Linked DNA regions of Homo sapiens: region 1 is linked to region 2. Evidence: fine-mapped expression QTL. A gene starts in region 2. The other region holds a variant in brackets. All regions are shown on one strand. Distances are between the middles of the regions. Region 1 has its middle 92 kb from the start of TBC1D2B. Region 2 holds the start of TBC1D2B (TBC1 domain family member 2B).

What was found. PIP is the estimated chance that this variant, and not a neighbour inherited with it, causes the effect.
Region 1: its variant is the best candidate, but not a certain one, in a credible set for the expression of TBC1D2B in lymphoblastoid cells (GEUVADIS, PIP 0.68).

What each region holds. Positions count from the first base shown.
Region 1 is chr15:77,983,309-77,988,674 of GRCh38, forward strand. It overlaps the pseudogene ADAMTS7P3. Among named protein-coding and RNA genes, the nearest start is that of TBC1D2B, 92 kb to the right of the region's middle. The variant A/G (reference allele first, on the strand shown) is at 2,681.
Region 2 is chr15:78,074,335-78,079,700 of GRCh38, forward strand. It overlaps TBC1D2B (TBC1 domain family member 2B), which reads right to left and starts at 3,377. Exons shown (of 13, transcript NM_144572.2): 1 at 2,959-3,377. The coding sequence starts at 3,318. RefSeq lists silencers at 2,853-3,052, 3,253-3,462, 3,613-3,662.

The sequences.
Region 1 (5,366 bases), 91 kb before region 2:
GCCTCTGCAGAGGCAAGTGCCCTGTGGTGGCTGGAACAGACAGGGGTTCTTTGTCTCAGGCAGGAAGTTCCAGGTGCACAGTCCAAGCTGGCGGGACCTGGAACTGACTGGACCTCAGCCACATCGTCCTTGCCACAGCAGCCTCCCCTTCACTCCTGCTTGCCACAGATGGTGTCCTCCCTTCCAGGGCTCTTGCAGTGTTCTGGGCAGGAAGAAGGAGAGGGGAAAGGGCTGAATCCCAGCAAGGGACTTGTGCCTTTTTCTCCCAAGCCAGGACTGTCCCAGACCCCCCTAGTTGCAAGGGAGCGTCAGTGGGGTGTGTTTTCAGCAGGTCCCATTGCTGCCTTGAGCAAAATTGGAATCTGTTGGTGAGGAAAGAGGGGAATGAGTGTGGGACTGGCAGCTCGGGGGAGGGACAACTTACTCTCGGGACCACGGGGCAGGGGGTGGAGCAGAGAAGGCAGAGCCACCAGCAGAGGGGGTCCTGCAGCTGGGCTTCAACAGGCAGTATGGAAGTGAGTGTCCAAGGTGAGGAGCGTGGCTGTGCAAAGTCCCCAGGGTGGGCGGTGGCAGAGGGTGTGAAGGACAGGAGCAGTGCCAAGGCTGGTGTGGGGGTGGGGAGCAGGGGCTGTCCCTTCATGCCCCATTTCTTGTCCAGACGTTCTCTGAGCCATTGGGAAGGGTGTGGATGGTGGGACGGCCTTGACGCCACGGCTGGGTTTGCATGCTAGCAGCAGCTGGCATGGATCGAGCTCTTAGGATGTGCCGGGCAAGGGCCGAGCCTACACATGCAAGAACACATGCAGTCCTCCCTCCAGGGCTTGGAGGAGGCAGGATTGTTGCTCCCACTTCACAGAGGAGGACACTGAGGTTCAGAGAGGCCAAATGAGCTGCCCATGGTTTCAGCTAGGAAGCAGAGGGTCTGGGCACCCAACCCACTAAAACTCCACACTCTGCCACCCCTCCAGGCACAGCCAGAGGGGAGGCTACATAGGAGAAAAGGGGGTGTATGAGAACCAGGAGGACAGCGAGGAGGTGACGGTGGAGGTCTGCCTTCATCCTGACACAGGCAGTAAGGTGCTGTTCTGGCAGAGAGAGTGTCTTTGGGTCTTGGGCGGTGGGCACCTGGGTGCCAGTCCCAGGCTGAGCCCCATGGCCCCTAGGTGTGCAGAGGCAGAGTGTGTACTGCTCAGAGCGGCAGGCAGGACCTGTGGACGAGGAGCACTGTCATCCCCTGGGCCGGCCTGATGACCGCCAGAGGAAGTGCAGCGAGCAGCCCTGCCCTGCCAGGTGAGCCCACCCCCATCGCCTGCCAACTCCCCACCCCCAGGTGTCCTGGGTCTGCCACAGGCCCCTACATCTGGGTCCCTGGAGACCCCGGGGGGGAGCAGAGGGAGCTGGGCTTTCATTCTCTTCCCAAGGCTGAAGCCCTAACCCCAGGTCACCCCTCACCCCAGGTCACCCCTCACCCCAGCCTAGGCCAGCCTGGGCCAGCCTGGACACCTGTGGTCCTCTTCTTTGGATCCCTGGATGTGGAAATAGGCCTCAGGTCATGCTCAGTTTCCCTGAGGGGAGGGTGGCAGGAGCAGAGGGGCTGTGCTATGTCACCAGGCTTTGAGGTCAAGAAACTTACCTGGGCTTGGATCTCTGGAGAATCAACCACTGGCCTCAGTCCCAGCTCTACCCAAACCCTGAAGGCCTGGAAGCCCATTCCCTGCTGGTGAGCCTGCTGAAGAGCCTGCTGATGCCACCCGTCTGATGCCATGCTGATGCCACCCATGTGCCCCCGCCAGGTGGTGGGCAGGTGAGTGGCAGCCGTGCTCCAGCTCCTGCGGGGCCTGGGGGCCTCTCCTGCCGGGCCATGCTCTGCATCCGCAGCATGGGGCTGGATGAGCAGAGTGCCTTGGGGCCACCCGCCTGTGAACACTTCCCTGGCCCCCTACTGAAACCCCTTGCAACTGCCATGTGCCCTGTCTGGCTACCTGGGCTGTGGGGAACTGGTTTCAGTTGAGCGTGGGATGGGAGAGGGCCCACCTCCAGCTCCACCCTTGGTCTTCGGCTATCGGGAGGCAGACAGCCTTCCTGGAGCCCTCGTGGGTGGGAGGGAGTCTGGGCATTCCAGGGTCCAGCCCCTGACTAAAGCCTCAGGGATCAGGAAGCCCCTGGCAAGCATGGCCATAGTCATGGCCTTGAGCTGGGCAGGGCCAGAGAGGGCTGGCTGGGGTCTCTGCCACTCCTAAGCCCCCTCACCCTGGCTTCCCCTGCAGTGCTCAGTGACATGTGGGGAGGGCACTCAGCGCCGAAATGTCCTCTGCACCAATGACATCGGTGTCCCCTGTGACGAGGCCCAGCAGCCAGCTAGCAAAGTCACCTGCTCTCTGCCACTCTGTTAATGGCCCCTGGGCACACTGGGCCCTGAAGGCTCAGGCAGCGGCTCCTCCAGCCACGAGCTCTTCAATGAGGCTGACTTCATCCCGCGCCACCTGGCCCCACGCCCTTCACCTGCCTCATCACCCAAGCCAGGCACCATGGGCAACGCCATTGAGGAGGAGGCTCCAGAGCTGGACCTGCCGGGGCCCATGTTGGTGGACGACTTCTACTATGACTACAATTGCATCAACTTCCACGAGGATCTGTCCTATGGGCCCTCTGAGGAACCCGATCTAGACCTGGTGGGGAC[A/G]GGGGACCGGACACCCCCACCACACAGCCATCCTGCACCCTCCACGGGTAGCCCCGTGCCTGCCACAGAGCCTCCTGCAGCCAAGGAGGAGGGGGCACCGGGACCTTGGTCCCTTAGCCCTTGGCCCAGCCAGGCCGGCTGCTTCCCATCCCCGCCCTCAGAGCAGACCCCTGGGAACCCTTTGATCAATTTCCTGCCTGAGGAAGATGCCCCCATAGGGGCCCCAGATCTTGGGCTCTCCAGCCTGCCCTGGCCCAGGGTTTCTACCGATGGCCTGCAGACACTTGCTGCCCCTGATAGCCAAAATGATTTCCCAGTTAGCAAGGACAGCCAGAGCCAGCTGCCCCCTCCATGGCGGGGCAGGACCAATGAGGTTTTCAAGGATGATGAACCCGAGGGCCGTGGAGCACCCCACCTGCCCCCGAGACCCAGCCCCACGCTGCCCCCTTTGTCCTGTCGGCAGCACCCACTCCTCTCCTAGTCCCGACGCGGCGGAGCTGTGGACAGGAGGGATAGTGGCCTGGGAGCCAGCTCTGGAGGGTGGTCTGGGGCCTGTGGACAGTGAACTGTGGCCCACTGTTGGGGTGGCTTCTCTCCTTCCTCCTCCCATAGCCCCTCTGCCAGAGATGAAGGTCAGGGACAGTTCCCTGGAGCCGGGGACTCCCTCCTTCCCAACCCCAGGACCAGGCTCATGGGACCTGCAGACTGTGGCAGTGTGGGGGACCTTCCTCCCCACAACCCTGACTGGCCTCGGGCACATGCCTGAGCCTGCCCTGAACCCAGGACCCAAGGGTCAGCCTGAGTCCCTCAGCCCTGAGGTGCCCCTGAGCTCTAGGCTGCTGTCCACACCAGCTTGGGACAGCCCCGCCAACAGCCACAGAGCCCCTGAGACCCAGCCACTGCCTCCCAGCCTGGCTGAAGCGGGGCCCCCCGCGGACCCGTTGGTTGTCAGGAACGCCAGCTGGCAAGCGGGAAACTGGAGCGAGGCAAGTGGTGTGGGCTGGGCGGGCAGGGAGTTTGCGGGGGACCTTGGTGACTGTTTCTTCACTGAAAATGAGCAGAGTGGGACACGGGCCGTCTGTCTCGCCTCCCTCGGGGAAGGGGTTCCCAGGATTTAGGGGGGTGAGGGGACCCCGGGGCCCATTCCTGGGCAGCACAGCGGGCCTCAGGGAAGGCAGGGGCAGGCACACTCTGGCAGCACAGCACGCCCCAGGATGGAGCTGGCTCAGACAGCTGTGCAGTGGGGAGGGTCCCCGCGTGGCCGCCGGCCCCGCAGCTTCCCTGAGGTTCTGCCTGGCTCCTCCAGGCTGGGCTCAGCCCACTGCCACCTGGCTCCGCCCTCCTCTAGCAGTGACCTGCAGGGGTCTGAGCTGCAAGAAAGAAGCTGGCTAGTGCCCCTCCCTGGGTCCCCAGATGGTCACTGCAGGAGAAGAAGCTTCTGTTCAGATCCCTAATTTGGAGGTGGGATGGGGTAGGCTGAAGCTTTACTCAGCGATTTGGCTGCTGGCACCAGGACCCAGCCTTCCTTCCCTGGTGCCTCTGGGAAGCCATGAGGATGGTCAGGATAGCTGGTCAGGGGTGCCCACAGGGTCCCCTCCCCCCACCTCTGCACCAATGACGCTGGAACACAGGCCCTTTGTCCCATGTGAGCAGGGATGGTTGGTTGCTGGGGGGATTTGACTTCTCATCCTCACAGTCTTCCTGGGAGGTGGGTGGAGGAGCCTATTTTGCAAATAAGGAAACTGAGGCCCAGAAGAGGGCCCCTGTCCTGCTGAGGTCTCCTGTCTTGCTGAGGTCTCGCTAGCCTAGGTGGGTAGTTTCCTGGCTGTGGAGGCCTGGTGGGGATGGGATCTGCCTGGCTTTCACGGGTCTGTTCCCCGCAGTGCTCTACCACCTGCGGCCTGGGTGTGGTCTGGAGGCCGGTGCGCTGTAGCTCTGGCCGGGATGAGGACTGTACCCCCGCTGGCCGGCCCCAGCCTGCCCGCCACTGCCACCTGCAGCCCTGTGCCACCTGGCACTCAGGCAACTGGAGTAAGGTGCGTGAGGATGGAGCCAGGACAGGCATTCCCAGGGCATGGGGTGGAGCCCTGGTTCCCCACGGCCTGTGTTCCGAGAGCGGCAGGGAAGGGGAGGGCTCCAGGCTGCACGTCTGTGTGCCCGATCTCACTGGATTCTGAATCTCTTGGGAGTCTTCTCATCTTTGTCTGGCTTGGCCTGTCTCCTTTTCTCTGTATCTTTGACCCCATCTGGACTTGTCTTTCACTAGCTTGCCTTTGTTCTTCCCTTTCTCTGTCTGTCCCAGCCCATGGCAGTCTCTGGCCATGCCACCTTTTGCCTGGGGCCTGCCAGCCTTGGCCTCTCGCTGGGGTTCTTCAGATATTTCCCCGGGCTGGGGCGTGGGTCTGATGCCTTTCCCGCCACATGCCTCACAGGGTCACACCCGTGGGCCTGCACGTGGGTGTCTTGGTCCCCAGTGCTCGCGCAGCTGCGGTGGAGGTTCCTCAGTGCAGGACGTGCAGTGTGTGGATACACGGGACCTCTGGACACTGCAGCCCTTCCATTGTCAGCCCGGGCCTGCCAAACCGCCTGCACACCGGCCCTGCGGGGCCCAGCCCTGCCTCAGCTGTTACACATCTTCCTGGAGGGAGGTGAGGCCTGGGGGTTCAGATCGGGGGAGGGGATGCCC
Region 2 (5,366 bases):
CTTCCAGAAAGCCTTGCCTGATTTCCATTCCCATTGTTGTATACAGCCAACACTCGGTACTATCTTATTCTGTGACCAATTTAATTTTACATGTCAAAATATTCCTCCATTGTCAGTAACCCAAAGGAAAATGTATTTCCTTTCTTTAAAAAAAGAAATATTCTGAACCTACAAAAAGATGGATAGCATAATAGGACAAACACTGATATACCTATGACCCAGTCCAAGAAATAAAACACTGCAAAACAGGAGAAGCCCTGAGGCACCCATTCCCAATCACATCCTCCCTCTTCCCATCACAGGCAACCACTACCTGGAAACCAGAGCTCATCAGCCCCATAAAGCTCTTCCCCTCGCGAAAGAGCATACATCCTTATGATCTGTAGTACTGTTTCACATGATCTTCCTAACCTTTCTATAAGTGGTATCATTCTGAACACAATCAGTGTGTAACTTACTTCTTGTTCAATTTTATTGTTTGTGAGAGTAATCCACGTTGACACCTATAGCTCTAGTACCTTTGTTTACTACTGCATAATATTCCACTATATGAATACACTACATATTTGGCCAAAGACACTGCTTGATGTTTCATATGCCATGTAGTGCCTACTATTTTCCATACCACTATGGAAAATGCGCCAGCCATTTTCCATAACATTCTCCAGAATCCTCACAGCCACCTAATGAGGAAGGTATGATTCCCACTAGACCAAAGAGGAAACTGGAGCAGGGAACTGGTGTAATTTGTCCAATATGTGTGAGCAGCAGACTCCTGCTTCAAGTTCAAGTCCATCGAAGTTTAAAGCCACACTTCTGACAATGCGCCTTGTAACCCTGCTTATGTAGATTCTTATTTATTATTTTTTTTTTAATTTTTTTTGAGATGGAGTCTCACTCTGTCACCCAGGCTGAGTGCAGTGGCGCGATCTCTGCTCACTGCAAGCTCTTCCTCCCGGGTTCACGCCATTCTCCTGCCTCAGCCTCCCGAATAACTGGGACTACAGGCACCCGCCACCATGCCTGGCTAATTTTTTGTATATTTAATAGACATGGGGTGTCACCGTGTTAGCCAGGATGGTCTCGAGCTCCTGACCTCGTGATCCACCCGTCTCGGCCTCCCAAAGTGCTGGGATTACAGGAGATTCAGATTATTTTAATGAAAAAAACTGATAGAGTTCTACAGTCATCTGGGAAAAATGTGAAACACGATGCTCTATTTTCTTTAACAAACATCCCACAGGAAATTCGTCCGACACAGGGACAGCCCGTATGTACACTGAGGAAGAGCCTCTGCCTTTGGCAAAGGTCTCCCACTAGGGTCATTACCAAGTTTATACAGGCACTCTCTAAGTAAGCCTGTGTAGGACTGCAACCCGAGTTGGTTTTCTTTGGGGAAACAGGCTGTCTGCACCCACTTACAGACAGGACAGGGGAGCCCAAGAGAACATGGGAATCAGATCCTGCTTGAACTGGCAAAAGCTGAGTCAGCAAAGCTCTAAGAACATCTCCAGGGAGCAGCTCCAGCTGTTAGCAGCTCTGGGGGTCTGAGGAACAGTCCTCAGCTCACAAGGCCAGGAGTTTGCCTAGTCTGCTCTCCGTGTGGCCAGCTTTGAGAGCACTTTCATACATCCCAGCCCAACCCTGTTGCTCTGGAGAAAGCCCAACCTGGAATACGGAAGAGGAGTGAGAGTGAGGGTGGAGACTCACAGAAACCAGGCAGGGAGCAAAGCCTGGAAAAAGGATACCCAGCTCCAGGCCTGGGCCCAGATCCCTCCAGATGCTCAAAGCAGGTGGGCCCCTAGGAGGTGACAGTCTAGTCCCCCAGAACTCCCAAGGACAGGGGAGGCCTTTCAGCACCAGGACTCCTGACTCTACTCTCCTGCTTCTACACTGTATCTCTCATTTTGTCTGTCCACTGGAGGATTAAGGGAGCCTCAAAGGAGCAAGGCATAACTGGCTGAAAAGACCCCCTCCCACCCATCCTGGACAAAGCAAGGAGGAAGAACACAGGATCTGCCACCTACTGGCTGTGTGACCTTAGCTGGAGCATCCCCGTCCACTCTGGAGGAAAATGTAGTGGACTGTCTCTAAGGGCCCTGCCATCTGACTCTTTCTGTCTACAGTGCTAAATGCACTCTGGCTCACGCCTGGCATCCCAGCACTTTGGGAAGCTGGATGGGGAGGATGGTTTCGGCCCAGGAGTTCGAGACTAGCCTGGGCAACATAGTGAGACCCCCGTTTCTTTAAAAAAAAAAAAAAATTTAATTAGCCAGGCGTGGTGGCCCGCACCTGTGGTCCCAGCTACTTGGGAGGCTGAGGTGGGAGGATCTCTTGAGCCCAGGCATGGAGGCTGCAGTGAGCCGAGATCGCACCCCTGCACTCCAGCCTGGACAACAGAACAAGATCCTGTCTCAAAAAGAATAAATAAACAAATAAATAAAAGCACTGACATTTACTGAGCAGTTTAAAGTATAATTCATTTAATCCCAACACCCCATGAGGTAGATACTACTGTTATCCCATTTTACAGAGGAGGCCGCTGCAGCCCAGAGCGGTTCACTGAGGTACCAAGGCCATAGGCAAAGTTCTAAAGGAGGCCCCAGGGGTAGAAGCCTACGCTCACGGATGCCTGGGAAGGCTGCACAGGACATCCACGGGATGGTGGGGGTCGGGAGACACCAGAGACTGGCCCGAGGTTAGGCGCAGAGGGAGATAATGGGTCAAGGTGTCTGAGAAAGGAGACGGGGCTTGGTAGCCCCAGCGAGACTGGCCTAAGCCCAGATAGTGGGGAGGAGATAGGAACGAGGGCGGGATGTGGAGAAGCAGGGAAAGGCAGGCCGACGTGGGCAGGGGCGAGGAGGCCTTGGAGGAAGGAGGGTGGATGGCGCAAGCCAGTGGCGGAGGCAGGGGACGCCGGCGGAAGCGCGCGGGCGGCTTTGGGGCGAGCGGTCCCACCTTGAGCACCGTGACGGCTCCCGCGCTGTGCACCTGGAAGTGCGCGGGCGGCTCCGTGCCCGGCTCCGCCGCCTCGTCGGGGCCCTGGTAGCTGAAGCAGGCGTCCGCGATGTCCAAGTGGCCGAGGGGCAGCGCGTCCTGCGGACTCTTGAAATAGTAAAGGTAGCAGCGGCGCGCGTCGAACACGAACCAGCGGCTGCGGTAGCCACGCAGGGGGCCCTTGCCCGACAGCTTCTGCAGATAGCCACACAGCCGCGCTGGCTCCCGCGCCGGACCCGCCCCGGGCTCCGCGGCCGCCCCCTGCGCCGCGCCCTCGCCGCCGCCGCCGCCCTCCTCCGCCCGGGCTCCGGCCCCCGGCATCGCTACCGCGCGCCAACCGTAGGCGCCCGCGCCCTGCGCCTCCGCGCCGCGGCCGCTGCGCCCCCTACCCCCTCCGCACCGCCCCTTCGCTCCGCACGGCCCGCGGGCGCGCAAAGCACCCTGGGACTTGTAGTCTCGCCCCCGCCCGCCCGCCGGCCGTTGCCCCCTCAGCCCCCGGAGGCAGGGTCCTGCGACCAGCACCCCGCGGGTCAGTTGCCTTCGTGCCACCTGGGCTCCAAGTCCTCGCCCTGCCGGATGAAGCAATGGTCTATTTCTTTATGGCAGTGTAGGTACATGGGAGTGTGCATCTCTCAAAACCCAGCGGAGTGTCCGCTTAAAACTGCATTTCACACTGTGTATCTTATTCTAAAAACTTGATATTTAAATCTCCCTCCTGCCAGAGTCTCAAGCTAATATTGTAAAAATGAGACAGCCTATTGCCTGGTGCTGAGTGGGTGCTCAGTAAATATTTGCAGAATTCATGAAAGCCAAAGCGTTTCCTGCCTCTCCAGACCTCAGTTCATTTATTGAATTCAACATATATTTATTGAGCGCCTTCTGAATGCCGGGTACGGTTCTGTATGCCAGGCCCTGGCGGATACAGCAGTGAACAAACCAATCATTCTCCTGCCCTCGTGGAGGTTATATTCTAGTAAGGCAGGGAGGTGACACACAAGAAAGCAGATAAAAGTAATGTGTGCTATGTTGTATAAATGCCGTGATGACATGTAAATGATTACCGCTTAAAATAGCACCTAGTATTTATCAGTGCTTTATAGACTAACTTATTTGAACACTCACAACCTGAGAAGGCAAATCTATTGCTTTGTAATAAAGCAAAGAGAAAGAATGAATAAGACCAAGTATTTGCTAGCACAACAGGGTGACTACAGTCAAAAATAATATAATTGTACGTTTAAAAATAACCAAAAGAGTATAATACAGACGCGGTGGTTCACGCCTGTAATCCCAGCAGTTTGGGAGGCCGAGGTGGGTGGATCACCTGAGGTCGGGAGTTCGAGACCAGCCTGACCAACATGAAGAAACCCTGTCTCTACTAAAAATACAAAATTAGCTGGGCGTGGTGGTGCATGCCTGTAATCCCAGCTACTCGGGAGGCTGAAGCAAGAGAATCTCTTGAACCCCGGAGGTGGAGGTTGCAGTGAGCCGAGGTTGCGCCATTGCACTCCAGCCTGGGCAACAAGAGCAAAACTCTGTCTAAAAAGAAAAAAAAAAGTATAATAGGATTGTTTGTAACACAAAGGATAAATGCTTGAGGTGATGGATACCTTACTTACCCTGATTTGATTATTATGCATTGCATGCCTGTATTAAAATATCTCATGTAACCCATAAATATATACACCTACTATGTTCCCACAAGAATAAAAAATAAGTAAAAAGCAAAGTGAGAGGATGAAGTGATGGGGGGCAGATAGCAGGCTGCTGCCCCAGGACAGGCAAGGAGGCTGGTCTGATCCTGTGACATGGAGCACAAACCCAGATGATGGGAGGGACAGGGGCAACCAGAAATGTGGGTGAAGCATTCCAGGGAGAGGGAATAGTGAGTACAAGAGCTCACTTTATTCAAAGGAAAAAGGAAGTGTATAGCTACATAGCTACATTTGTGAAAGCCCAAACCAAATATCTCACCCTCATAGATTTGCATGTTTTATACAGACACACTGAAAGACCCAGGTGGAAAACTGACCTTTCTGAGCTGGACAGGGACACAAATTAGACTGCCTGTTTGGAGCCACCCAGGTAGGAAGGGCAGGTTCTGGGTCCTCACCCAGCCTGCCGACTCTCTGCAGGCCCTAAAGTGGCACCACGCAAGCATTCCTTTCCTGGGGCCCATCAGAGGTGTGGCTGACCTCTCCACCTGTCTTTGAGCACAATCAGCACAGTGTTAAGGACTGGGCTCTGACTTCACACTGACCAGATGTGTCTCCTAGCTCTGCCACTTACCAGAGGCATGACCTTGGGCAAGTGATTTAACCTCTCTGGGCCTCAGTCTCTTCATTTATAAAACAGGGTTGATAAATACA